Linked DNA regions of Homo sapiens. The protein of the gene in region 1 binds, or shares a complex with, the protein of each later gene. Each region holds a gene or a part of one and is shown on either strand. Other genes may lie near its edges. The genes, in order: RHNO1 and RAD1. A codon is read from its position in the direction of its gene.

Evidence for each region.
Region 2: the proteins of RHNO1 (region 1) and RAD1 are in contact, whole or in part, in a crystal structure (PDB 6J8Y), measured with the Homo sapiens proteins. Residues at the interface, in NP_001239428.1 of Homo sapiens: Ser55, Trp56, Val57, Ser58, Pro59, Asp60, Phe61, Asp62, Thr63; in NP_002844.1 of Homo sapiens: Asn47, Gly48, Ile49, Lys50, Phe64, Ile65, Gln66, Ser149 (codon at 7,586), Lys155 (codon at 7,568), Ile157 (codon at 7,562), Glu211 (codon at 5,203), Ala212 (codon at 5,200), Lys240 (codon at 4,807), Val241 (codon at 4,804), Ser242 (codon at 4,801), Arg244 (codon at 4,795), Gln254 (codon at 4,765), Tyr255 (codon at 4,762), Met256 (codon at 4,759), Phe266 (codon at 4,729), Glu268 (codon at 4,723).

Annotation. Positions count from the first base shown.
Region 1 is NC_000012.12:2,870,567-2,881,917, reverse strand, and holds the start of RHNO1 (RAD9, HUS1, RAD1-interacting nuclear orphan protein 1), read right to left. Parts: upstream 4,696-11,351; 5' UTR 4,636-4,695; intron 1-4,635. Other genes in the region: FOXM1 (forkhead box protein M1), read left to right, coding at 7,440-7,941, 9,671-9,822. UniProt on the Homo sapiens protein: Involved in microhomology-mediated end-joining (MMEJ) DNA repair by promoting recruitment of polymerase theta (POLQ) to DNA damage sites during mitosis.
Region 2 is NC_000005.10:34,904,090-34,915,165, forward strand, and holds the end of RAD1 (cell cycle checkpoint protein RAD1), read right to left. Parts: intron 10,873-11,076; 5' UTR 10,804-10,872; coding exon 10,606-10,803; intron 9,490-10,605; coding exon 9,381-9,489; intron 7,724-9,380; coding exon 7,465-7,723; intron 5,268-7,464; coding exon 5,169-5,267; intron 4,860-5,168; coding exon 4,676-4,859; 3' UTR 1,506-4,675; coding exon of another isoform or gene 1,442-1,505; 3' UTR 1,171-1,441; downstream 1-1,170. UniProt on the Homo sapiens protein: Component of the 9-1-1 cell-cycle checkpoint response complex that plays a major role in DNA repair. The 9-1-1 complex is recruited to DNA lesion upon damage by the RAD17-replication factor C (RFC) clamp loader complex.

The DNA.
Region 1 (11,351 bases):
CTTTTTTTTTTTTTTGATGGAGTCTTGCTCTGTTACGCAGGCTAGAGTACAGTGGCGCGATCTTGGCTCACCACAACCTCTACCTCCTGGGTTCAAGCGATTCTCCTGCCTCAGCTTCATGAGTTGCTGGGACTACAGGCGCACGCCACCATGCCTAGCTAATTTTTGTATTTTTAGTAGAGACGGGGTTTCGCTATGTTGACCAGGCTGGTCTCGAACTCCTGACCTCGTGATCCACCCGCCTCGGCCTCCCAAAGTGCTGGGATTACAGGCGTGAGCCACCATGTCCAGCCAAAGTTTCTATTCTTAAGGAACTAACATCTTATAGAAAACACAAAAAATATATATATCCATTTGTTCATTCACTCATTCATTCACTTGAGAAATATTTACTGAGTGCCTACTGTGTGCTAGGCACTGTTCCAGGTGCTGAAAATATATACCAGAGAATAACATAAAACCTCTGCCCTTGTGGTGCTTACATTCTAGTCGGAAAGGAATAAAAAGTATAGAGAGGCCGGGCGCAGTGGCTCATGCCCTTAATACCAGCAGTTTAGGGAGCTGAGGCGGGCAGATTACTTGAAGTCAGGAGTTCAAGACCAGCCTGCCCAACATGGTGAAACCCCATCTCTACTAAAAATACAAAAATTAGCCAGGCGTCATGGCACACACCTATAATCCCTGCTACTCAGGAGGCTGAGACAGGAGAATCGCTTGAACCCGGGAGGCGGAGGTTGCAGTGAGCCGAGATCACGCCACTGCACTCCAGCCTGGGCAACAGAGCGAGATTCAGTCTAGAAAACAAACAAACAAAAAGCTACCACAGAAATCCAGTGAAAAGATAACAGTGGTAGCAATGGCTATAGTTTTGAAATTCATGACTTGCTGAAAGTCATCAGCTTCAAATGGGTACGTTGCTCAGCAATCCTGTTTCCTTGATCAACTCATTCTCCACAAAGATTATCTTAAAACTTCTCCAAGCTAGGTGCAGTAGCTCACGCCTGTAATCCCAGAACTTTAGGAGGCTGAGATGGGAGGACTGCTTGAGGCCAGGAGTTCAAGACCAGCCTGGGCAACATAGAGAGACCTCGTCTCTACTACAAATTTAAAAGAATAATTAGCTTGGCATGTTGGCATGTACCTGTAGTCCCAGCTACTTGGGAGGCTGAGGTGGGAGGATCACTTGAGCCTGGGAATTTGAAGATATGGTGAGCTATGATCGTGCCACTGCACTCTAGCCTAGGTGACAGACAGACCCTATCTCAAAATAAATAAATAAAGTGGAAATTTTGTTTGTTTGTTTTGAGACAAAGTCTCACTCTGTTGCCCAGGCTGGAGTGCAGTAGCGTGATCTCGGCTCACTGCAACCTCCTCCTAGGTCCAAGCGATTCTCCTGCCTCACTCTCCCAAGTAGCTGGGATTACAGGCGCCCTCACCACGCCCAGCTAATTATAGTATTTTTTAGTAGAGATGGGGTTTCACCACGTTGGCCAGACTGGTCTTGAACTCCTGACCTCAGGTGATCTGCCCACCTCGGCCTCCCAAAGTGCTGGGATTACAGGCGTGAGCCACCACGCCCAGCCTGAACATTTTTATTTTAATTTTTAAAATTATTTTTAGAGATGGGGTCCTGTTCTGTTGCCCAGGCTGGAGTACAGTGACACGATCATAGCTCACTGCAGCCTCAAACTCTTGGGCTCGAGAGATCCTCTTGCCTCAGCCTCCCGAATAGCTGGGAATACAGACAAGCACCACCACACCTGGTTAGTTTCTTATTTTATTTTTTGTAGAGATGAGGTCTTGCTTGAACTCCTGGGCTCAAGTGATTCTCCTCCCTCAGCCTCCTGAAGTGCTAGGATTACATGTGAATCACCACACCCTGCCCACTTTCTTAGAACTTCAGAACACCCCTTTTCTCTTAACAAATGACTTTACTTCCTACTTGACAAAGAATACAGAAGACATCAAAGGAAATACTCTCATTTTCCAGAAAGCAAATATACAAACCTATGCGTATCAACATCTATCTTCTTTCTGCTCTAATTAGAGGTCAGTTCATTCTGCTGTCTAAGTCCTTCCCCTCTGGTTGTGCTTTGGAGCTGTTCTCACTCTATATACTTTTCTTAGGCAAACTCATCTGCCTGTATTTCAGTATCCACCTAGAAGTAGATGACTTCAATATTTATATATTTTAGAATTCCTTAAGTTTGGGACCCAAATATCCCATTACCTACCTGAACAGCAACTAGATATTTCAAACGCACCTCAAATTCAACATGTGTAAGGCTGAGCGCAGTGGCTCACGCCTGTAATCCCAGCACTTTCAGAGGCCGGGGTGGGCAGATCGCTTGAGCTCATGAGTTTGAGACCAGCCTGGGCAACACAGTGAAACCCAAATTCTACAAAAAATACAAAAAATCAGGTGGGCACGGCTGCGTGCACCTGTAGTCCCAGCTACTCAGGAGGCTGAGGTGGGCAGATCACTTGAGCCCAGGAGGTGGAGGCTGCAGTGAGCCGAGATCGTGCCACTGAACTCCAGCCTGAGTGACAGAGCCAGAACCTTGTTTCAAAAAAAGAAAAGAAAAAAAAATTCAACAAGTTTAAAACTGAACTTGGCCGCGCACAGTGGCTCATGCCTGTAATGCCAACACTGTGAAAGGTGAAGGTGGGAGGATCACTTGAACCGAATAGTTCAAGATCAATCTGGGCAACAGAGTGAGACCCTGTCTCTACAAAAGATACAAAAATTAGATGGGTGTAGTGGCATGTGCCTGTAGGGGGTCCCAGCCATTCAGGAGGCTGAGGTGGGAGGATCACCTGAGCCCAGGAGGTTGAGGTTGTAGTGAGCCAAGGTCATGCCACTGGACTTCAGCCTGGGGGACAGAGCAAGACCCTGTCTCTAAAAAATAAAAAGATAAATAAAAATAAATATATAATTAAAAAAAAAACTCATTCTGAGCATTGCTTTGTAGTAAAAAAACAAAAACTGAATTCACGATCATTCCCCTGACAACCCCCCGCCCGTCCCTTGGCCAAAGTGATTATCTTCCAGGGCCCTTGGTCAGGGAATAGTGTCATTATTCCTTCAGTTATGCAGCTGAAAATCTTGACACTTCTACCTCCCATCCAACCCACCATCAAGCCCTGTCAACTTTACCTCTTAAACATGTTTTCTTAATGCCCCTTTTTTACTCTCTCTGTCTCCTTCTTTCTCTTCCTCTCTCTCTCTCCCTGCCACCCTTTTTCAAGCTCCAGCAGTTCTTGCCTGGAGTATTGCAACATCCAACTGTTCTGCCCTAATCCACTCTAGCAATCCCCGCTATAGAGGGACCTTTTAAAATGCAAATCTGACCTGGATTCACTTCTGCTTAAAGCTTATGACTGGTTTCCTTTAATTCTTGGATAAGCACAAAACTTCTCGGTATGGCTAAGGCTCTGCTTCCTCCGGCTCCAGCTTCAACTCACACCACACTCCATTCAGGTCGATTAGCTCAAACCCCTCAGATATTTCTCAGCCTTTGTACTCACTGTGCTTCCTCCTGCCATCCAGCCTTTGCACGCCTGATTCCCTCTGCTTAGAGGAGTTCCCTCCTTTCTTTGTAAAAGGCATCAGATCTCACACCAAGCTCTCATTACAAAAGCCTTTCCTGTCCTACCTCTCAAGATCTCGTTATTGTAAATACTCAAAGTATCATTAACCTCTAATGTTTCAATTTACAGCAATAATTCAACATTTGTTTGTTTTGGAGACGGTGTCTCCCTCTGTCGCCCAGGCTGGAGTGCAGTGGTGTGATCATGGCTTACCATAGCCTCCACCTCTCGGCCTCAGGTGATCCTTCCACCTCAGCCTCCAGAGTAGCTGGGACTACAGGCACGCACCACCACGCCCGGCTAATTTTTAGTAGAGAAGCGGTTTCGCTATGTTGCCAGGCTGGTCTCGAACTCGTGACCTCAAGTGATCCACCCGCCTCGGCCTCCTAAAGTGCTGGGATTACAGGCGTGAGCCACTATGCCCAGCCCACATTTGTTTATTTGATTAAAATGTCTGTGCCCCTCTTCCAGGATTGGGCTGTGAGCCCAGGGGAAGGAAAGAACCTTGTCTGCCATTGTATCTTCAGGGCCTAGCGGTGCCTGGCGCACAGCAGTTGCTCAACTAGACTGGTTGACTAAGTCAATAAATAAAGCACTACGGTCTATTATATCCGAAGGCTTGGCTTCGGGAGGGGCAAAAGACAGGTTTCGCGCTGAGGTAGGGTTCATGGTGCCGACATTTTTTTTCAAGATGGAAGAAAGCGGAGATAATACGCAGCCCTCAAAGGAACTTAGTCTAATCGGGGGGAGCAGACGATCGTTCACTGTGGGAAAATGGGGTACGATTTCCCCCAGTGAGGAAATCAACTAAAGCCGAGCTTTGAAAAGGGGAGCAGAGGAGCCTGAGGGGAAGCGGGGGCGTGTCGCCTGGCGTGACCAGCGCGGCAGGAAAAGCGGGCCCAGGGACCCGGGCCTGTCACGCCGCTTCCGCGCGTCCCCAAACTCTCCCTCGGCTCGCCCACCCACGCGGCGGGGACCCCTCCGGCCCCTCCCCGGCCCCACGGCCACTTCTTCCCCCACAAGCCGGCCTGCGGTCCGCCTTACCAGCCCGGGCCGGACGGGGCCGCAGCTCCTGGCAGACCGCACAGCCTTCGAGCCCGGAATGCCGAGACAAGGCCGGCGCCGATTGGCGACGTTCCGTCACGTGACCTTAACGCTCCGCCGGCGCCAATTTCAAACAGCGGAACAAACTGAAAGCTCCGGTGCCAGACCCCACCCCCGGCCCCGGCCCGGGACCCCCTCCCCTCCCGGGATCCCCCGGGGTTCCCACCCCGCCCGCACCGCCGGGGACCCGGCCGGTCCGGCGCGAGCCCCCGTCCGGGGCCCTGGCTCGGCCCCCAGGTTGGAGGAGCCCGGAGCCCGCCTTCGGAGCTACGGCCTAACGGCGGCGGCGACTGCAGTCTGGAGGTGAGCGGGATGCAGCAATGGAGTCCCAGGCCTGGCCTGGGCACAGGCGGGGAGCAAGGCCTCCGGGCGCGGAGGTCAGGGCGTCTAGCAGCAGGGCACGGGCCACGAGTGGAGATTTGGGTCACACGGGAAGAATCTGAGCCAGGGTGCAAGTTTTTTCTGCGTCCACCTCCTGGCCGTGGCCTTCTCACTGCTTAAAGCGCCCCTTGGCCTTCCCTGGAAGTCTGACCTCCGCACCCTGCCCGCGGCCTCGGGAGGGCTGGGGTGGCCTACCTTCTTAGGCCGACTGTGGCTGAGATGAAGACTGAGATTGTACTACATTGAGTCAAAGACCAACCTGCATACACACTCCCCTGCTCCCAGGCTGTCTCACCACTAGGCAACACCGCCTCCATCTTACTTACCCTTTTGCAGGGCCCTTTTCCTGGTTCTTGAGAATGTAGCAAGATTTCCCCGCTCAGGATGGGGATGGGTCGGAGGAGCCACTCTGGAAGTTTCCCGGGCAAGAAAGTGTTGGCAATAATAATAACGGGCTGGTCAGGAAGTAGAAGAGAAAATTAAGACTTAGATATCCTGTGGAAAAAGAGGAATAATATCTACTGATTGATGCGGGGAGAGAGGGAAGCCTGGAAAGATCGGAGGTGAAAGTAAAACTGAGATTTGAAGGTAGAGGTGTGGAGGGCCTGTGAACTCTATGCAGATGACAAATGTCAAAAAAGTGCAGTTGCTTTTCAGGGAGAGAATAAGTGTCCTAAAAAAGAGACAGCCAATTCCTCTGTCTTCCAAAGTTCCGTGAAATAGAATTACACAATTTTGCTTAATGGTAGAATATTCCATGTATCTATTAAAATCAACAAAAGGCCGGGCGCAGTGGCTCACGCCTGTAATCCCAGCACTTTGGGAGGCCGAGGCGGGTGGATCACCTGAGGAGTTCAAGACCAGCCTGGCAAACATGGTGAAACCCTGTTTCTACTAAAAAAAAAAAAAAAAAATTAGCTGGGCATGGTGGTGCATGCCTGTAATTGCAGCTACTCGGGAGGCTGAGGCAGGAGAATCGCTTGAACCCGGGAGGCCGAGGTTGCAGTGAGCTGAGATTGCGCCATTGCACTCCAGCCTGGGTGACAAGAGCGAAGCTCCGTCTCAAAAAAAAAAAAAAAATTAAAAAAAATCAACAAAAGACTTAAAAAAAAAAGACTACACTGTTAGCATTTCAGAACCACCTTAGTGTAATGATGATAGCTCATTGTGGTACTAAGAAGACAGGGGTTATAGTCTTATTTCTGGAAAAGAAATTAATAAAGTGGCATGCTTAGTTAAAATATATATAACCACATGCAAGTACTAAAATGCCACTGTATAAATACAATACAAATTGTAAAAGAAAACATGCTTTTTAAATTAGAGCAAGTATAATAGCCTGTGAAATAAATGTCACCCTCTAGAGTTGTTCAGTGCACAAGCTGCACAACTTTACATGGGCCTTCAGTAGAGGTTTCCATTTTATGTGAGGTTTTGTAAACTGGGAGATGATTTTTCCAGTAGTGTGGCAATAGTACAATCTGCCTTTCTTCCCTGATTCTGTGTGCACTGGTCCTATTTACAAAGTAATATAAAAATCAAAAGGCTTGGCCAGACGCGGTGGCTCACGCCTGTAATCCCAGCACTTTGGGAGGCCGAGGCGGGCAGATGACCTGAGGTCAGGAGTTTGAGACCAGCCTGAGCAACATGGTGAAACCCTGTCTCTACTAAAAATACAAAAACTAGCCGGGCGTGGTGGTGGGCACCTGTAATCCCAGCTACTCAGGAGGCTGAGACGTGGGACTCGCTTAAACCCAGGAGGCAGAGGTTGCAGTGAACTGAGATCGTGCCACTGCACTCCAGCCTGGGTGACAAAGTGAGACTCTGTCTCAAAAAAAAAAAAAAAAAAAAAATTAAAATCCTTTGTCTTGAATGGATTATGGGATCAGAGTTTCATCAGGACTCCTAATTACCATATGCTTTCCTATTCTAGCATCTTCCATTTCTGTCCATACAGTCATTGCAAGTGATCTATTTATATTATAGTAGGCAATTATAGAGATTTCCACATATTTGTAGCTATCCCATCCATTTCTGTAGCCAAATATTCTGAAGCTTCAAGGAGATCTTTGTCTTATCTCCAACCCAGTCCCATTTTTGCCCTTTGAATTGCTTCTGTCTGCTGTAATTTTAGCCTTCTTTTGTCAGTAAAGCTTATCTCCTTATTATCTGAGGTCTTTACAAAAGTCCATGGAATGTTTACCTGGGCCTTTAGGCTCATGTTCCTGGTCATATAAAGAGGAGCACCTTTCTCTAAAAGGACCTCTTCTCAGCCTAAACAATCTCTAACATCTTGCCACTATTTGCATTTTCCAGGGTCCACACTTGTGATTCTCAATGGAGAGTGAAAACGCAGATTCATAATGAAAACTAGCCCCCGTCGGCCACTGATTCTCAAAAGACGGAGGCTGCCCCTTCCTGTTCAAAATGCCCCAAGTGAAACATCAGAGGAGGAACCTAAGAGATCCCCTGCCCAACAGGAGTCTAATCAAGCAGAGGCCTCCAAGGAAGTGGCAGAGTCCAACTCTTGCAAGTTTCCAGCTGGGATCAAGATTATTAACCACCCCACCATGCCCAACACGCAAGTAGTGGCCATCCCCAACAATGCTAATATTCACAGCATCATCACAGCACTGACTGCCAAGGGAAAAGAGAGTGGCAGTAGTGGGCCCAACAAATTCATCCTCATCAGCTGTGGGGGAGCCCCAACTCAGCCTCCAGGACTCCGGCCTCAAACCCAAACCAGCTATGATGCCAAAAGGACAGAAGTGACCCTGGAGACCTTGGGACCAAAACCTGCAGCTAGGGATGTGAATCTTCCTAGACCACCTGGAGCCCTTTGCGAGCAGAAACGGGAGACCTGTGGTATGTGGTCTTCCAGGGAAAGGGGTGAGGGAGCCCAGCCTTTCCTCTGTAGTGGCAAGGTGTGTAGTCAGTCTTGATGCTTACAACAGTCAGGCTTCTGGCCGAGCACAGTGGCTCATCCCTGTAATCCCAGCACTTTGGGAGGCTGAGGCGGGCGGATCACTTGAGGTCAGCAGTTTGGACTAGCCTGGCCAACATGGTGAAACCCGTCTCTACTAAAAATATAAAAAAACTAGCCGAGCGTGGTGGCACACGTCTGTAGTCCCAGCTACTCTGGAGGCTGAGGCAGGAGAATCGCTGAACCTGGGAGGTGGAGGTTGCAGTGAGCTGAGATTATGCCACTGCACTCCAGCCTGGCCACAGAGGGAGACTCTGTCTCAAAAAAAAAAATAAAAATGAAAAAAGAAGGGGTCTCAAAAATAAATAAATGAAGAAGGGGTCTCACTATGTTGCCCAGGCTGGTCTCGGACTCCTGAGCTCAAGGGATCCAACCATATGGGCCTCCCAAGGTGCTGGGATTATAGGCATGAACGACAGCGCCTGACTTCATTTTCCTTCTTTTTTTTTTTTTTTTTTTTGAGATGGAGTCTTGCTCTGTTGCCCAAGCTGTAGTGCAGTGGTGCAATCTCAGCTCACTGCAATCTCCACCTTCTGGGTTCAAGTGATTCTCCTGCCTCAGCCTTCTGAGTAGCTGGGATTACAGGCACCCGCCACCACACCTGGCTAATTTTGGTATTTTTTAGTAGAGACAGGGGTTTGCCATGTTAGCCAGGTTGGTCTTGAACTCCTGACCTCAGGTGATTCGCCCACCTCGGCCTCCCAAAGTGCTGGGATTACAGGTGTGAGCCACTGCGCCTGGCCTCATTTTCCTTCTTGATAAAGGAGAAAACTGAAGCAAGAGGAGGAAAATGACTTTTTCTTTAGAGATGCGGTCTCGCACTGTCACCCAGGCTAGAGTGCAGTGGCGCAATCACGGCTCACTCTAGCCTCGAATGCCTGGACTCAAGCCATTCTCCCACATCAGCCTCCCAAGTAGCTGGGACTATAGGCATGCACCATCATTCCCAGTTAATTTTTTTTTTCTTTTTGCAGAGATGGGGTCCCACTATATTGCCCAGGCTGAAAAGTGACTTTTTTGGTGTGCATATCTCAATAATTCTTTTGTAAGCCTGCCTTGATTGATCTCTAAGGCTCAGTGTGGCTCAGCTTGAAATGCAATTTGAACTATGCTCCTAAATTTGTCCTGAAATGCATAATGGGGCAGAGTAACTTAGAGCCACAATAGATTCAGCATGTGTTCTCCGTCCCTAAAGGCAGAGGTCTTGGACAAGTGATCCCTAGCCACCAATTCTTTCTTTTTTATTTTTTATTTTTCTGAGACAGAGTCTCACTCAGGCTGGAGTGTAGTGGCGCAATGTTGGCTCACTGCAGCCTTCGTCTCCCGGGTTCGAGCAATTCTCCTGTCTCAGCCTCCTGAGTAGCTGGGACTACAGGCGTGTGCCACCACACCCAGCTAATTTTGTATTTTTAGTAGAGACGAGGTTTCACCATGTTGGCCAGGCTGGTCTTGAACTCCTGACCTCAGGAGATCCACCCGCCTCGCCCTCCCAAAGTGCTAGGATTACAGGTGTGAGCCACTGCACCCGGCCTGCTAGCCACCAATTCTGATGGACACACCTGGGCATCTGATGAGGCAGCTAAGTGGGGTGTTGGATTATTTTCCCTCTAGCAGATGGTGAGGCAGCAGGCTGCACTATCAACAATAGCCTATCCAACATCCAGTGGCTTCGAAAGATGAGTTCTGATGGACTGGGCTCCCGCAGCATCAAGCAAGAGATGGAGGAAAAGGAGAATTGTCACCTGGAGCAGCGACAGGTTAAGGTGAATTGTTCCGTCCCTCACTAAAGAAATCAGATCCAGTGTAGGGAATTCCTAGGTAGGGAAATGGATCAAGTGGCCTGATGGACCAGAATTTCCAAGTTCTGGTATTAGCTCTCCACTTCATGCTATTCTGCATAACTTTTGAGCTATTTTTCTGCCTGGGATCTTTTCTCTCCCATCTGTGAAATTTCCTTGAGGGCAGAGTCCCTTGGTCACTCTGTATTCCAGCCAGCACTGGGTTTAGTATTTTGTCCTTAGTAGGTATTCAGGAAATGATTAAGAGGTCTTCATTTTGGGAATCCACCTGAACTTTAAAGATGCTTCCCAACAGTATGAACAGTATGAATTGAATAGAATACAACAAGTTAATTTTATTAGAAGATATAATATTAATAGCAGATAAAGTCAGTTATATATATACACGTATATATATTTTTTTTTTTTAAGACAGCGTCTTGCTCTGTTGCCCAGGCTGGAGCGCAATGGTGCAGTCATGGCTCTCTGCAGCCTCGACCTCCAGGGCTCAACTGATCCTTCTACCTCAGTCTTCCAAGTAGCTGGGACTTGCCAGCTTGGTGCATGCCACCATGCCCAGCTAATTTTTGTATTTTTTGTAGAGATGGGGTTTCGCTATGTTGCCCAGGCTGATTTCAACTCCTGGGCTCTAGTGATCCTCCTGCCTCAGCCTCCCAAAGGGCTGGGATTACAGGCGTGAACCACCAGCCTGGCCTAGATACGAATTTTAAATACTTCTCTAGCAATCAAAATTGATCTAACCCAATTGTGTAGTCTGGGTTTTTTTCCCACAGTTACCAATATAACACATCTAGATTCTATTGTATATATGTGTAAATCACTCATTCAACCTTTATTTTCTTTTTTTTCTCAACTTTTATTTTAGGTTCAGGGGGTACATGTGCAGGTGTGTTACATGGGTATATTGTGTGTCGCTGGGGTTTAGTGTACAAATGATTTTGTCACCCAGGTAGTGAGTATAGTACCTGCTAGGTAGTTTTTCTGTCTCCCCCTCCTCCCACTCTCCACCCTCAAGAAGGCCCTGGTGTCTAGTGTTCCCTTCTTCATATCCATGTGTGCTCAATGTTTAGCTCCTGCTTTTTTTTTTTTTTTTTTTTTTTTTGAGACGTAGTCTTTCTCTGTCTCCTAGGCTGGAGTGCAGTGCTGCGATTTCAGCTCACTGCTACCTCCACCTCCCAGGTCAAGTGATTCTCCTGCCTCAGACTTCTGAGTAGCTGGGATTACAGGTGCCCGCTGCCACGCCCGGCTAATTTTTGTATTTTTAGTAGAGATGGGGTTTCACTATGTTGGCCAGGCTGGTCTTGAACTCCTGACCTCGTGATCCACCTGCCTTGGCCTTCCAAAGTGCTGGGATTACAGGCGTGAGCCACTGCGCCCGGCCTCTTTTTTTTTCTTTTTGAGACGGATTCTCTCTTTGTTGCCAGGCTGGAGTGCAGTGGCACAATCTCTGCTCACTGAAACCTCTGCATCCCAGGTTCAAGTGATTCTCCTGC
Region 2 (11,076 bases), on another chromosome or scaffold:
GGAGTAGCTGGGACTACATGCATACTCCACACCTGGCTAATTAAAAAAAAAAAATTTTTTTTAGAGATGGAGTCTTGCTATGTTGGCCAGACTAGTCTCAAAACTCCTGGGCTAAAATGGTCCTCCTGCCTCGGCCTCCCAAAGTGCTGGGACTACAGGTGAGAGCCACCACACCTAGCTCAATAAACATTTTTTAGCAAGCAAACAAAAAAGTTTATGTAAACGGCTGGGTGTGGTGGCTCACACCTGTAATCCCAGCACTTTGGGAGGCTGAGGCAGGAGGATCACAAGGTCAAAAGATCGAGACCATCCTGGCCAACATGGTGAAACCCCATCTCTACTAAAAATACAATTATTAGCTCGATGTGGTGGCATGCACCTGTAGTCCCAACTACTCGGGAGGCTGAGGCAGGAGAACCGCTTGAACCTGGGAGGTGGAGGTTGCAGTGAACTGAGATCGCACCACTGCACTCCAGCCTGGCAACAGAGTGGGACTCCATCTCAAAAAAAAAAAAAAAAGTTTATGTAACCTGTTCTGTATGTTCAATGACGTACTACCTGCTGATTTGGTAAGTTCACCCACCACTGCATTAAAGGTCCACTTAAGGCAGGCTTGACAATATTCCAGAAATAGTACTGTCCTAACGTAGTCAGCCACGGCAACCAAAATCCTTGGACAAAATGGCAGGAAGCAAGACCATTTTGGAATCAAGTGTCAGGCACCATGCCTAAGGGTACAGGCCACAGGGTTTACTAGATTGTTACTTCCTTTTTACTTTAGTATGAGGAAATACTCTGAAATAATTTAGTAAGTTCACATATCCTGAATACCTCTAGTTTTGCCAGTGAGAGCCACTACTAGTATCTATTATAATGATCAACAAGCTATGAATTTCAAAAATATATTTCACACATTTACTCTGCTGATTATCGAAATCTCTGGACGTGACTGAGATACAGATACGAAAAGCACTTGAAACCGCTGCTTTTGGTGTTTCTGTTTAGAACACTAGCTGTCCACTCCTGAGAGGGAAATTCTGTTAAAGCTAATGACTCCTCCTGGGGTGCTTGTAACCTGATTCTAGTATAAAAGCAGCACTGCCTATTCCAAAGAGAATGAAAGCAAATTACAAACATAATTGGGAAAAGAAAAAATACTATACACTCCGATTTCTCAGGACCCAATAGATTTTATTTCAGGTGGGGATAAGGGACAAGCAATGTGAAGACAGGGAAGGAAAGAAGGAAGTCTCTATGTTCTGAAGGACTGCCTACCCCACTGTTGAGAGTGCCACATTCTGCCCTTTTAGCAATTTTAATTAATTTTTACTAGGACTTTGGTAACACCACAGAAACCCTGTGGCTTCCTGTTAAAATGACTGTGTTACATGCCTTATTTTTATTAAAGTGGAATTTAACAAATACTTTTATTATTTTGAAGCATTTCATCAATTCTCGGTGGAAGCACTACATCATCGAATGGGAAATCAACAAATGAAAAATGAAAAAAAAGATTATCCATTCACAGTAAGCACCATTTTACTAGAAAGAGAGATAAACTTCAAAAAGACAGAACTAAAAGTCTTTAAATATAAGACTGTATTCTTCTATATACTACACATCAATTTGTAGTGGCACCAAAGTGTCGCCTGCTCTGCCTGAGGGAGCACTCCCCCTAGTGATTTTCCATAGGAAATAAAGTTAAACTTTTATTAAAGTAAAAATTCCTGGGTCAATTAGAACACAAATAAGGAGGAAATTCTTTATAAAATAAGTACCTTGATGTTAGGGTGACTTAGAAACAATTCATTAGTCTTTGAATTCTAAATAGCTGAAGACATGCAGCTAAAACAATAATTTTTATTTTAATTTTTTTTGTTTTTGAGACGGAGTCTTGCTCTGTCACCCAGGCTGGAGTGCAATGGTGCAATCTCGGCTCACTGCAACCCCCGCCTTCCAGTTTCAAGTGATTCTCTTGCCTCAGCCTCTCAAGTAGCTGGGATTACAGACACCCACCACCACACCCAGCTAATTTTTGTATTTTTAGTAGAGGTAGGGGTTTCACCATGTTGGCCAGGCTGATCTCGAACTTCCTGACCTCAGATGATCCCCCTGCCTCGGCTTCCCAAAATGCTGGGATTACAGGTGTGAGCCACCACTCCCGGCCTAAAATAATAGTTTTAAATGTACAAAAATATCCATCCTTACTGAGCTGATTTATATTTGTTTTAAATTCTTTTTAGATTCAACTTTTAAAAAATACATTAGGCCAGGCATGATAGCTCACGCCTGTAATCCCAGCCCTTTGGGAGGCCGAGGCGGGTGGATTGCTTGAGCTCAGGAGTTCAAGATTAGCCTAGGGAACATAGTAAAACCCCATCTCTACAAAAAATACAAAAATTAGCAGGGCATGGAGGCATGCACCTGTAGTCGTAGCTATTTGGGAAGCTGAGATGGGAGGATTGCTTGAGCCTAGGAGATTGAGGCTGGAGTGAACTGTAATCCTACAACTGTACTCCAGCCTGGGCAACAGAGCAAGATCTTGTCTCCAAAAATAAAAATAAAAAAACTGAGATCAAAATAAATTTAGAGCTAAATCATCAGAATTAAGTAGTGACTAATAAGATGCTAAAAGAAAATCTGAAATTGGAGAGTCTTTCATCTAACAGAGTTACTAAATGCCCATTATATGTTAGGCGCCGTTCTTTGTTCACACTAGTAACAAAAGACAAAAAATAACTATGCTATTTCACATTTAACAGTCCTTAGAATGTTGACTGATTAGATATTTTCCCAAGTATCTTTTAGGTTTGTTCTGTTCTTGGTGGTTATCTAAACAAAAAATACTCTGACAACATTTAGTAAATTCATTTGTTTCCTTCTTGAATACAAACATTTTAGAAAATTCCAACTTCTTTTGTAGTCACTGCTAAATTTTGTATGCTGAGATTGAGACACTTACTAGTTATCAGGTGCTGACCCTGGCCACCTCCCAGAATTGTCCATATGCCTGGGAAGCAGTGCCTGCCATTGTGCTGGAGTAGCCTCCTTGCAGCACACTTTGCTGTAATACTCTCCAAACCAATTTTCTCTAATGCTATGTGACCTATATTAAGGTAGGGCATTCCAATATATCCTCCAATTTTGGTGAATACAATTGAATGGTTCTCAACAATGAATAGTTTGGCACACTTTTATTTGGGGGAGGTGGGGTGGTCACAATGACTAGCATCAGTGGGTAAGGGCCAGAAAGGCTAAATGAATCCTGCAATGGGATGACAGGTTTTTATCCTAAAGAACTGTCTCACTCAAAAGGCCAATAGTGACTGTCCATGGAGGGACACTCAGCTGTTGTCACCTGGTACAGTAACAAAGACAGAAGCTTCACTTTACTCATGTAATTTTTTCTACTAGACAGGAAGATAATTTTTGCATTTTATTAAATATATTTATATGCCACAAAAATTATTTTAGTGACAACTACCAGGAAAGTACAAAATCACTTAATAACTGGTTTTCTACACCTTGATTTGTCAAGAAACTCATAAGCAAATGGAAAGTAGTAAGTACTGATTGCAGTTACTTACAGCAAACAGTTTTGAGAAGAAGAAGAAAACCTGTAACACTGAAAATTGCTTTATATCCCATTCATAGATCTCTTCAAAAGGTCTACTTTAAAAATAAATCACATAAAGAATTGTTCAGACTTGTTTGGTGATGCCTCAACTTCAGAACATTTGCAAGGAAATCACATGTAAAAGCAATCATCTCATACAATTAAATGCTATTAAAGAAAAAAAAAGTTTCCTTTAAAACAGTGGTTCCCAAAATTTAGCAGGCATCAGAATCTCCTGAGGGAAGCTTGTTAAAATACAGAATGCTGGCCTCCTCCCCAGAGTTTGCTACAAGTTTGCAGGCCATTCTGATGTTGGTGCGGGCACAACACTTTGAGAACCACTACTTTAAGATCTAGTCTCTAGAATTCAAACTAATAAGCAATGCCCATATGCCTTTGCTTTTTCTAATAATAAATAAATAAAAGATCATTTCAGGTAGCTGCATCAAACTTTAAGCCTTTAGACTTTTTTTTTTTTTTTTTTTGAGGCAGAGTTTTGCTCTTATTGCCTAGGCTGGAGTGCAATGGCGTCATCTCAGCTCACCACAACCTCCGCCTCCCGGGTTCAAGCAATTCTCCTGCCTCAGCCTCCCGAGTAGCTGGCATTACAGGCATGTGCCACCACGTCCGGCTAATTTTTTGTATTTTTAGTAGAGATGGGGTTTCTCCACGTTGGTCAGGCTGGTCTCGAACTCCTGACCTCAGGTGATCCGCCCACCTCGGCTTCCCAAAGTGCTGGGATTAAAGCCACCACACCCGGCCACCTTTAGACTCTTGAAATGTTACGCTGACTCACAATTATTCCCATGAGTTCAAAAGACAGAACTAAAGGACAGTCCTGAATAATCTATGACTACAGGAAAACATTTATTTACATGCCCTCTACAAAATGGATTTACAAAACATAGTAACTATTAGGGTACATGACCTTGCTCCTATCTTCCCCATTGTGCTTCTTCTCTATAGAAAATCCAATATGAAATGACAAAGAGTACTGTACTCAGAATAAGAACTTCATCTATCATAAATGTACACATAAATATCAGTGAATTGTCATACTCAAGACTCAGATTCAGGAACTTCTTCATCAGGGCAGCAGTAATATTCCACAAAACATATTTGTCCATCTTCATTTCTAATCATATACTGTAATGAAAGGAAGCCTCTGTTATCTGTCCGAATAGATACCTTACAAGATAGGACTAATGCCTTTGTAGAGGGTTTCAGTAAGGAAATCTTGTATCTGTAGAAGAAAAAATAAAACGCTGTTATATCAACACAGTGAACACTGCTCAGAACTCCCAAGTAAAGGATAAAAAGTAGCAAATCTAAGAATAAAATCAAGTACTTATCCAATTTGCTAATATTTTCTGTTTTAAAATTCATTCACTGTTAGAACCCTACATCCCCTAGTAAGTCCAGCACTCTACTATTCATTTTTATAAAATGCTGTGCATTTTAATTAACAGATTGAAAGTGTTTTTATTTAACAGAAATCTGGTATTTAACCTCCTCTTTATCACCAATGACAACCTCTATATTAAGAACTGACCTGTTGACTTGGGTCTGATTACAATGAAATGCTTCCATCAAATCAGAATCTTTGGGATAGTCAAGGTGGGAACTTCCTGCATTTCCAAAAGTAGATAACCTATAGAAAATGATTACCTCATTTATTCATTCATCCAAAAATAAACCACATTAGGATCCAAATAAAGAAAACACTTCCTTAAGAAATTCATACTAGTGGGTGAAACAGACATGTACACAAATGCTTATAACACACGATAACAAGTACCATAATAAAGCTCCCACTGGAGTTCAGGACAACTAATCAATGGGTTTGAAGAAAATCAATTGTAAAAGGAAAAGGGTAGGGGACACTTTAATTTCATTACCCTAATCCTACTCTGAAAATGACTTTTCCTCATCCTTAAGTCAGAAATATATAACAGGCGAGAGAATTGAGGACTCATGGAAGACCTTGATCTAAGTCTACTGCAACCCTTAGGTCTGTTCCCAATCCTACACCTAGGAATTACAGCTTTTCTGTATCTTAGACTGCTCTTAAGGCTATTGCATGGTTTTCCTCACTTGGTAATACCAGAAGTTATTTGTAGACAATTTATAAGTGTTAACATGCTGATTTAATTTGCAAGAACTCCTGGAACATTTGCTGCAGGATTAGCACGTTGCTAAGTATTATATGAGCATGGCGATAAGATCCAGGTTGGTTTTCCCTAAGCTCCATTTCTGCCTCCCATCTTCCAGGTGTGGTTTTCCTGGGGTCCATCTTTTCTTTCTTCTAATATAATCTCTCTCTCTGACCCGTCTCATCCATACCCAGCCATGATGATGGTTCCCAAATCTAAATTTCCAGTCTAAATGGATCTCCTGAGCACCATAACTACATATCCAGCCACTCCCTAGTGTCGCAGGTACTTAAAATTTAACATATCCAGGAAAAAATTTCAACTCCTACCTCCCTACCACCAAATTGTTTCCCATCCTGGAGATGAAAGATACCATGGTCCATCTCGTTACCCAGGCTGAGAGAGATCACTGAGGAGATCCCCTGAAATACTGTTTTAAGTACCTGAATTTTTTACTTCATTCCACTGCTAAAGTAAGGTTTCCAATTTCCATTTTGGTTAACTTTCTCAGACCTTGAGCCAAATTTTTAACTCCCCAAAGTCATGACAAGGGCCTGTGATTCTTTTTCTTTTCTTTTTTTTTTTTTGAGACAGATTCTCACTCTGTCACCCAGGCTGGAGTGCAGTGGCGCAATCTCAGCTCACCGCAACCTCCACTTCCTGGGTTCAAGTGATTCTCCCACCTCAGCCTCCCAAGTAGCTGGGATTATAGGCACGTGCCACCACGCCCAACTAATTTTTCTATTTTTAGTAGAGACAGGGTTTCACCACATTGGCCAGGCTGGTCTTGAACTCCTGACCTCAAGTGATCTGCCCACTTCGGCCTCCCAAAGTGCTGGGATTACAGGTGTCTGCCACAGCACTTTTACAGCCGGGCCTGTAATTCTTCTAAAGTAGTTACAAAAAGAATACCTTATTCCTTTTATTCCATATGTATTTAGGGGCTTTAATATTCTGAAATATTTCAAAAAGAGAATATTTAGATCCTCTCTCTAAATTGCTAGAATCTCTGAGTCTAATCCTGAAAAGAGACTTGTGTTAAACTATCAAGAACAGCTTTTTTGACATTGTACTCCTGCTGAAAACTGCCCTCCCTTGGGAAGCCAGCCTTGAGCAATCCTCCCTAAATCCTTATACAGCATTTCCCAGGTATCTGTGTGTGCTATCTTGGTACTTAATGGTTTGCTGTTTCACATTTTCTTGGCTTCACCTTGGTTTTAAGCTGTTCTTCCCACAATGCTTAATAAGATGAATAAGCACACGGTAGGTGATCAACAGATACTTAGTGAATGAATGAGCCACGTGTAGAAAACATCTTCTTCTGCATCCTGAACTAACTTGAAAAAGATACCATAATACAAACACCCTTTCCAAACACTTAAACCCAATTTTCCTCATGATGTAACCTGATCTATGAAAGTAAGGAGTAGTACAATGAAAACACCACCAGTTTATAAATTAGAGGACTGGGCTTCTCATCTAGATGCCACCACCACCTAAATATGAAATAGTGAGTTAATCTTCCTGGGTCTTAAGTTTCTTGATCCATAAAATTATGAGGTAAGAGTACAAGCTGTCTAAAGTTGTGAAAACTCTAAAAATGTGGATAATAAAAATTTTGCATCCTAAGCAAATGTCTAAGTGGGAAGATGGAGTACAGACCACATTAACTATAACTGCACTGCTCTCAAGTACCTGAAATAAGGCTTGTCAGGAGACATGGTAATTTGTAGGACTTCACTCGTCATATCCAATTCAGAAAATGCTTCACGGAGCCCCTCTGACTGCAGAATAATTTTATTAATAACATTGGTGCTGCAGAAATCAAAGTCCAGGGTCTCCTCAGGTTCCTGTGTATTGATTTTGCAGACTGTCACCACTCCTCCTTCTTCCAGGAACAGCATCAAAGGGTAACCATAACCTTGGTAACACATTCGAAGTGCAGTTAAAGTCCCTGCAATGGAAAGAAGTCATACTTGGCCTTAGCTTTATAGTTCTGGGTTCAGCTTCTCCTCGAAATGATACATAAAATTTCTCAAGAATAATTTATTCCGCCCAATTTCTCACATATATGTATCTCCTCATAAAAAGGGATGACATCTTCCCTGATGACAGTTGTGTGTAGAGAATTCCAAAACTACAAGAAAATTGGGAACCAGAACAAAATGTAACATAATTCTTTGGAATCATTTTCAGGTTGTCATACACACCTCAGAAATAGCTTGTTGATTTTATATATGTACAATTTCAGGGTAGAGAATCTATATGGATCAACACAGCAAGTAACTAAATTGCTGCAGAACAGGGTATGCTATTCCTTGAAGGTTCAATGTGTGTAACAGTGGATTGCTGTCATCTGTACTGTAACGTCAGTGTACTCACTATGACAAGGATCCTTCCAACTTTTCCAACTGGGAGATATTCTTTATATTTCCTCGAATTTAAAAATCAAATTGAGAGAAAAAGAGGGTTGTTAATGGTGGTGTAAATTTTAACTCTGCAAACCACTAGAGGGAAGGAGGAATATGACAGGATATTCAAACTCCTTCTCCTTACTGGATTGAGAGCCACAGTGAGGAATGGAAGATGACAGATGCTTCTGTGAAAAACTAGCTGGAGAACACTGTATTAGAAAATGTATAATTAATAATAGTGGAATTGTCTGTGGAAACGTAAAATACATTTTTCTGGAGAACTATATTGAATTTTTCCTAGCTAATCTCCAGGTTGCTTTCCTATGAAATAAAATCATTCTTCTGGGGATTCCTTAGTTTTATACCCACAGCAATTCAATTTCACCATTCTTAAAAATTCCCTTAACAAATAAAAAAATATATATTTTAAAGAAAATCATTCGGCAACCGGTTGCGGTGGCTTATGCCTGTAATCCCAGAACTTAGAGAGACTGAGGCGGGCAGATCACCTGAGGTCAGGAGTTTGAGACCAGCCTGGCTAATATGGTGAAACCCCATCTCTACTAAAAATACAAAAAATTAGCCGGGCGTGGTGGCACGTGCCTGTAATCCCAGCTACTCGGGAGGCTGAGGCAGAAGAATCACTTGAACCCGGGAGGCAGAGGTTGCAGTGAGCTGAGACTGTGCCATTGTACTGCAGCTTGGGCAACAAGAGAGAAACTCTGTCTCAAAAACACCACAAAATCATTTGGCAAAATAGACATAACTTATAAAATATGGCTTAAAAGAAACAAATTTTGAACATAGTAAACTAGGAGTCAGAACTGGCTTTTGTTTTTCTCTGCCACTAACTAGCGGAGTAATTCTGGACAAGTTAGGAAAAAGAAGCAATTAAAACATTTCACAATGCTAAAAATATTTAAGACATGTCCAAAGTATTCTTTTGGCCAGTTCGAATTTACAATCCCTCAAAGCCTTGTAAATTAAAAAAAAAATGCAAATACTTTTACAAATATGAAAAGAATTATAAACACACTTGCAATTAACATTGTGAAATGTTAGAACCCATGACTGTGGCCACTGAAAAATGAATTGGCATTAGCTTTCTGAACCAATGTTTATGTTCCAAATAACTTCCTGTATTTTTCTGACCACTATGTATAACACTTTTATGTCTTTATACTGATCATAGTTTACCTGGCATAGGACTTGATCCAAAAATAGATAAACAGTCTAAAAGGACAGTTAAATTAATTCGAAAAGTAACAGACTCTTCCTGAACTTTAAACTCCTGAAATATTCCAGCCTATGAAAAGAGTAAAAATGAAAATTGTTACATAAAAGAATAAAAACTAATAATATAAGGTCCTAGATTTCACTTTATACGTTTAAAAAATACAATACTGTGCTAATCCCATGAGAATAATTTCTGATTAGCAATCAAAACATCTTAGAGACATCCTTTGAAGCATCCTTATCTCCATTCCTGGATCTAAAACTATCCCTCTGTGACTCTCCCTTGTCTCGTTTTTGTGCCTATCACTACTGCTAAGGTCACTTGGAAAATAGACGAATGACTTGATAATGCATGAGCAACATTAGTTTCAACTTTTATTATGATTTTTTATTGATACGGGGGTCTCACTATGATTACCCAGGCTGGTCTTTAATGCCTGAGCTCAAGCGATCTTCGTGCTTCAGCCTCGGTCTCCTGAGCAGCTGGAAATACAGGTGTGAGCCACCATACCATGCCCCTGCATGAGGACAAGAACCGTGTCTTATTTACCTCTCTATCCCTGAGATCATGCTGTGCACTTACGTGTTAAAAAACGCTTAGTTGAACTTGCAATCCTATCTGAACCACACAAATATTACTTTGGAAGAACAAAAATTCTATTACAACCAGTAAAGGAAAAAAATACTCTTTAGTAATAGCATATCGCAGTGGAAAAAAGAGCATATATTCTGGAAACAAATATTCAGCGTTCTTATCCCAATTCAGCCACTTACCAGCTGTGGGACTGTTGGCAAATCACTTAAAATTGTGCCTCGTTTCCACATATATAAAACGGGAATAATAACAGAACCTACCTTACAGGACTATTGTTAAGATTAAATAAGTTAAACAATAAGAAGACTGTAGCCTAGCCAATAGCCTAGTTTAATAAACTTTAGTCATTACTAACCATTATCTCTGTAAAACAAGATGGGAAAAGAATTTGTTACCGGGAGAGAAAAAAAATTCAAGTAATGACGTTTTGTTCTCTAACTTAAGACTATTATTTATTTATTAAGTTATTTATTATGACTATTGACAAGTTATTATGACTATTAAGTTATTTTGTCTACTGAAACCTTCCGATTTCATTAAATTACATTTAGAGTATCTATGGCACAGGCTTAAAGGCGCCTACTTCCATACCTGAATAAAAGCATTTGCTTGCACACACTTTGCATTTTCCACTGTTACTTTGATACCATTTTTAGTTGCGAAACACGTGGCATGTTCTCGGAAATGAATAGCTTTCAAGATAGTGGAGAGATTCCTAACGTTGTCAAGGCTGGCCACAAGGCTGTACTGATCATCCTCGTCTTGGATCTGTTGGGTCAGAAGGGGCATCGTCCACTGCGCATTCGGCCCCGAGGGATGCTCCTGGGGCCAACAACTTCTCGGCGGATCGCCAAACACCTGAAGGGATTAGACAGTAAAACTCCCATCAGTGCTGGCGAGGTCCGGCGAGCTCCACCTGCGCTGAGAGGTGGAAAGGGGCTGGGAGGCTGAACACGGCTGACCAGGCCGAACCCCACCTATGTCACTTAACTATCTTTGTAATTCTGGAGGAAAATTATCTAAGCTACGGTTTCCTCGTCTCCGTAAGAGGACAATAACGTG